Linked DNA regions of Homo sapiens: region 2 is linked to region 1. Evidence: fine-mapped expression QTL. Tissue or cell type: whole blood. Region 1 holds a variant in brackets; the other region holds the start of a gene. All regions are shown on one strand. Distances are from middle to middle.

What was found. PIP is the estimated chance that this variant, and not a neighbour inherited with it, causes the effect.
Region 2: CYRIA starts here. The variant in region 1 is fine-mapped to the expression of CYRIA in whole blood (INTERVAL, PIP above 0.99).

The regions. Positions count from the first base shown.
Region 1 is chr2:16,575,834-16,578,744 of GRCh38, forward strand. The region is part of intron 3 of CYRIA (CYFIP related Rac1 interactor A); the gene reads right to left. Among named protein-coding and RNA genes, the nearest start is that of CYRIA, 89 kb to the right of the region's middle. The variant A/G (reference allele first, on the strand shown) is at 1,141.
Region 2 is chr2:16,664,408-16,667,318 of GRCh38, forward strand. It overlaps CYRIA (CYFIP related Rac1 interactor A), which reads right to left and starts at 1,427. Exons shown (of 12, transcript NM_030797.4): 1 at 1,373-1,427. RefSeq lists silencers at 1,344-1,393, 1,464-1,633.

The sequences.
Region 1 (2,911 bases):
CCACAGAGCGAGACTCCATCTCAAAAAAATAAAAATAAATAAATAAAATAAATAAATAAATAAATAAATAAATAAAGAGCAGTTCCCCTGCACAAGCTCTCTCTCTTTGCCTGCTGCCATCCAGGTAAGAGACATGACTTGCTCCTCCTTGCCCTCTGTCATAATTGTGAGGCCTCCCTAGCCAAATGGAACTGTAAGTCCATTAAACTTTTTTCTTTTGTAAATTGCCCAATCTCGGGTATGTCTTTATAAGCAGCATGAAAGTAGACTAATACAGCCTATTAAGTGCCAATGATGCCAGACACTTTTGGGAGATATGGATTCAACGATATAGTTCCTGTCCTCAAGGACCTTAGGAGGGTGAGGACAGGATCATTAGATTCAGAAAGCATTTATTGGGTACTTGTTATATGCCTACCACAGTGACAGGTGATGCGGAGGATGAAGTAATTAATAAAATAAGACTGACATCCTAAAGTGAAAGTTACGAACTATCAGTAACAATTTAGTAAAACAGTATAATAAAAGTCATCATGCAGTGAGAGCTAAATGGCATTGAATATAGAGACTTTTTTCAGGAACAACGTAAGTGGAAGCTAAGAAAGTTTCTCAGAAAGGAAGATGTAAAATATGGCATCGTCGAAGCTATTATTTCACCCTGTCTTGGAAATCTTCCCAGGATTGTCCTCCTGCAACTGTCTCTTCTATCTTTTCTCAGATCAAATTAGTTATTCTCTCCTATGAATCCTGGAGCACAGGTCGTGTCCCTGCTACAGCATTTACCAATATTGCATTATTGATGTTGGTCATTATGTCTGCCTCCTCCAGTAGAGTGTAAACTTGCAGCTATTCACACCACGACTAGCAGAAGCTTAGCACGTAGAATACCCCTTTTATGATAATGTGAAAAATTGAACCAAAAGTATTGAGTTGTTTCCATTTAAAATAAACAGATAAAGGAAATGTAGACTATACATACAATGGAATATTATTCAGTCTTAAAAAAAGAAGGAAATCCTGCCATATGCAACAACGTGAATGAACCTTGAGGATATTATGCTAAGCAAAATAAACAAGTAACAGCAAAACACAAACTGCATGATTCCACTTACATGAGGTACTTCAAGGAGTCAAAGTCAT[A/G]GAAACAGAGAGTGGAATGGTGGTTTCCTGGGCATGGGGAAGGGAAAATGAGTAGTTGCTAATCAATGGGTATAAAGTTTCCATTATGCAAGATAAATAAGTTCTAGAGATCTATGCTACAACAACTTGCCTACAGTTAAAAATACTGTATTATACACTTAAAATCTGATCAGAGGGTAGATCTCATGGTAAGTCTTCTTACCATAATAAAAAAGAAAAGAAACATAATCCAATATATTTTGTGAATTCATTTCAATTCTTATTAAGGTAAAAAAACCTATTAAATGCCATTTGAGAAAATCAGAGAAATATCTATACATACTATATATTAGATGATACAAAATAATGTTAATTTAGATATATATCTGTAACACATTTAGATATAAATATGTAACACATTTTCATATTTTTTAAAAAGAAGTAAAATTCACAAAGAATATTGCGCTCACCCTAACAAGAAAACAAGTTAGATACTCTACAAAATCCTTGTTATTTTTGACTATAAGAAAGTTGAGGTTGCAAAAGTCTTTAATGAATTATAATCCATAAGGTGACAAGACTTTCCTAGGAGATATGACACCACAGGTGATTTCAAGTTTGACAGAGAAATGGTAAAAGGAGAAAGCTGCCATAAATGCAGGTAACAAGAAAATAGCTGACATCTTCACACACTGTAAAAAGAAGAGTGTGAAGTGTCATGAAAGCTGAGAGGCCCTGGGAGCTCCAGGCAGAAGGACAGTCTATGTCAGCCTGCAAAGTCTCTTCCATGAACCTTCACCAAGTGCTAACAAAAGAAGTTGAGAACAAGAAAGGAAAAAAGATTTTAAGACAGAAACCCTCTGGGTCAGGGGAAGATACACAAGAGAAATGCTCCTACACTCTCAGTCTTATCTAAGGGTGAAGTGTGGCCATCTATGACTGCGGGAGGGGAGGAGCATTGGGAAGGTGCCCTCTAGGGCCCACCATGCCAGGCCTGCTGTGGTAGACAGAGCAGAAAAATGAAGAGAAAGCCACCAGCCACTCTCCAGTAAGTAAAGAACAACTGTCTGCCTGGTGAGGCCAAGGAGGTTGAGAAACGCCATCCTGAGAATCAGGTGTTCTGGAGGGCCTTCTGAAGCCTGAAGATGTGACAGGAAAACTGAGACAAACTCTTCAGATCCCCAGCTCTGGTAAAGGGCCTGCTTTGATCCTTCCCTCAAATCTGAAATTTACAGTGAACCACGTATAACAAGCAACAGTGTAGCCCAGATCCAGATTGGATGGACTCAACCCCACTAGTGGACTGACAGAAGAAAAGGCATGTGATTTTCTGAGTGCACGTATTATTCACATCAGTCATCACTGTTCTGCTGCCTGGCATTTGTTCAAAAAAAGCAAAGGAAAAAAATTAACAAACACAAAGCAAGAAAATATCACCAGAAAAGTAAAGATTAATAATAGAGTCTAGAGATAGTCCAGAGGTTGAAATGTACAGACGAGGATCCTAAAATAACTATAAAAATATGTTAAAGAATCTATAATGTTGAATAATGTATGGTAAAAATGGAAAATTTCAGAAAATCCTTTGAGACTATTTATTAGGTTGGTGCAAAAGTAATTGCTGTTTTTGCCATTGAAAAGGGAAATGCTAAAAATGAAAAATTCCACATTAGATGGTTTCTACTAATGATAAGCTCCTTGATACATTTATCATTAGTAGAAAGTATCAGTAAACTTGAAGACAGACCAATAAAAATTATACAAACTGTATACAAAGAAAAAAAGAATTTAA
Region 2 (2,911 bases), 89 kb after region 1:
CTCCCAGAAGAGTCAGAAGGAGGAAGACAGGCAAAACTGTCACCATAGCAACACAAGACAGTCAGAAGCACGCAGGAAAAACAGCCCCTGCTCTGCCTCCTGTCTCCACTGCAAAGCAAGCCCTCGAACCCCAACCAGAGATCAGTGAAAGCCGACAATGATCCACCCAAAGAACTCTGGTACCCAAGCCCAGACCTGGCTAGCAGCCACTCTCCTCCTGCTGCCCCAGCACAAGTCCCAGCCTTCCAGGGTCCCAGATCAGCATTCTGTGCCCTGGGGACTCGACACTGTGCAGATGGCCCAGGTCCCATCCAGAGGAGATAGTGACTGGTGACAGAGAGGAAAGTTTCTAACAGGGAGAAAAGGAGGGTCACAGAGCTTCAGGGGAGATCAGGGCCCTAAACTCCAGCCCCATGACCCTGTCTTGGGTTCCCTGGGGAGCAGGCGGGTAAACAAGGGTGTGGGAGAGGACATCAGGCCCTGGACACAGAAAGATTGCTCCATCAGTTCTGGACCTGGCACCCCCAAAACAGTGGCTGGGGGAATTCTGGGGATGCGTGGGGAAATAGCTTTGGAGGCCTTAAATGACAAAGATCTTGGCCCTGGTCTCTGGGGACACTGGCTAGCGAGTAGGAGCAGCTTGGAGGAGGACCCAGGGACGGGCTGGCCCATTTTGACAGAGAATGTCTCCTGGCAGACAAGACAGGTGTCTCCACCAAAAAGCATGGCTGGCCTGGGACCAGCATTTTGGGAAGTGGGTCAAATTGTTCCCAAAGCTCAGTATTGGAAAAGTGCCTTTTGCCAAACTGGGGTTCTGGGTTCTGGGGGAGGAGAGAGGGTGACGGCAAGGTGTGCTGGGTCCTAGGCACAGCAGCTTTCTGGCTGGCTAAGAACGTCTGTGGCAGGTGGCAACAGAAGGGTCCAGGTGTGCAGGGGCTGGGGAGGGGGCCATCCCTCCCTTTGGGGCTGTAGAGAGTACCCAGGACCCCGGGGCCTCGGGTGGTGGGAAGGGGAGTGTTAGGGGTCCCCTGCAAGAATGGAGCTTATGATACCTGGGGTGGGGGGTAAGTGAGTGAGGGACGAGGGAGGGTGGTCTGGGAAAGGAACACAATCAGGAGGCAGCCCTCTCAGAAAGAGGGCAACGGGGCACAAAGCCGGACCTCTGTCCGGCGATCGCTAGAGAAGGGCTCCCGGACGGTGTCCTCCGCTCTCCCTCCCTCCCAAAGGCTGCAGGGGCGTCCGGGAGGAGAAGGATGGCAGGGAGGCGCCCGCCCCGCCTCGCGGTGCCCCGCGGTGCCCCGTGCAGGCCGAGCCCCGCGCCCGCAGACCCCCGCCCGCGCCCCTGCCGCGCCCCCAGCCGCGCCGCGCTCACCGAGTCGCCGCCGCCCTGCTCTGCCGCCCGCTCCGCCGCCGCCGAGTACGCCTCTCCCGCGGCCGCCGCAGCCTGCGAGACGGCCTCGGAGCCCCGCCCCGCCCCTCCCCGTCCCTCCCCGCCCCGCCCCGCCCCCAGCCCGGCTCGCGGCAGCCGCCCCGCCCCGGCCCCGGGGGATCCCCACCCGCGCTGTCACCGGCCGCGTCCTCACCCTAGCCTGGACAACCCCATCTCTTTGCCCGGCTCTGCTCTCTGCTCCCAGGAGCTGGTGCGGACCCGCCCCAGCACGGTCGCCCCTGCCCCTTCTCAGCCTTGGCCACTTGGCCTTGCCTTCCCAGAGGAAGCCCGAACCAGACCTTTCTGTTTCTGCACACCAAATTCCTCCACACCCACGGTTGCCCTCCAAGAAAAAGAAATCCCCGCAATCTCTAGACGCATATTCACCTTCAAATTAATGCCCAGCCAAATCATCCCAATCCCTAGGCACACTCCAAATTACTTGAGATTCTGAACCCAGTCTCGCTCCCAGTCCCTTTCTGCCCACCCTATTAACAGATCTCCAGCCTTGGGGCCCGCAGTTATCCGATAGGACCACTGTAAAGTCTTCCCAAAGGCTCAATCCAAAACATGTAATTAACCTTAAAGAGTAAGTCTGCAAAAACACTTAAAAAATTCTATGATGCAAAAAGAAAGTAGTGGGTTACAGCGTCATTGACGTGATCATTGTTCTAAAACATCTGCCATGGAGGCTTTTTGCATTAGAGAGAGGGAGATTCAGGAAACCGGAGAGGACTCAGCAGTGCCAAACAGGTTGTGAGTCAGAGCTCCTGTTGAGGGGAGGGAGAGCTCCTGGGGACCCCGGCTTCGGGTGCTTCCTTTCCCAGTCCATCAGCCAGAACATCATGAAACATGTGTTAAATCCCCATAGTGTGCCAAGGTACGTGCCCGAAGCTGCATGGGTTGGGGCCCTGTGTGGGCTGGGATCAGAGGAGGCGGGAAGCATCAGGAGAAGGTGTTCAGGCCCCTCTCCTTTCTGAGATCCAGGGTGTTTCCCCTGGGAGGACTTGTTGCCCAAGCTTCCTTTGCACTCTGAAAGGCTCTCCTGAACTGCCCACAGAGGCTCTTGGTCTGTTTTTTGGCAAAAATTCACAGAGGGCAGGAAGGCACTGTCTAGTTAGAGTGAAATATTTTCCCACTTGGAAGGGGTCCTTAGGACCAGAAGAAACACTTTCCCGTTCTCTTTTTGAGTTTTCCCCATGCCCTAGACCAGCCTCTGTTGTCAATTCCTGCAAAGGTGTTTTTTTTGTTTTTGTTTTTTGAGACAGAGTCTCACTCTGTAGCTCAGGCTGGAGTGGAGTGGTGTGATCTCGGCTCACTGCAACCTCCATCCCCCGGGGTTCAAGCAATTCTCCTGCCTCAGCCTCCAGAGTAGCTGGGACTACAGGCGCCTGCCACCACATCCGGCTAATTTTTGTATTTTTAGTAGAGACGGGGTTTCACCATCTTGGTCAGGCTAGTCTTGAACTCTTGACCTCGTGA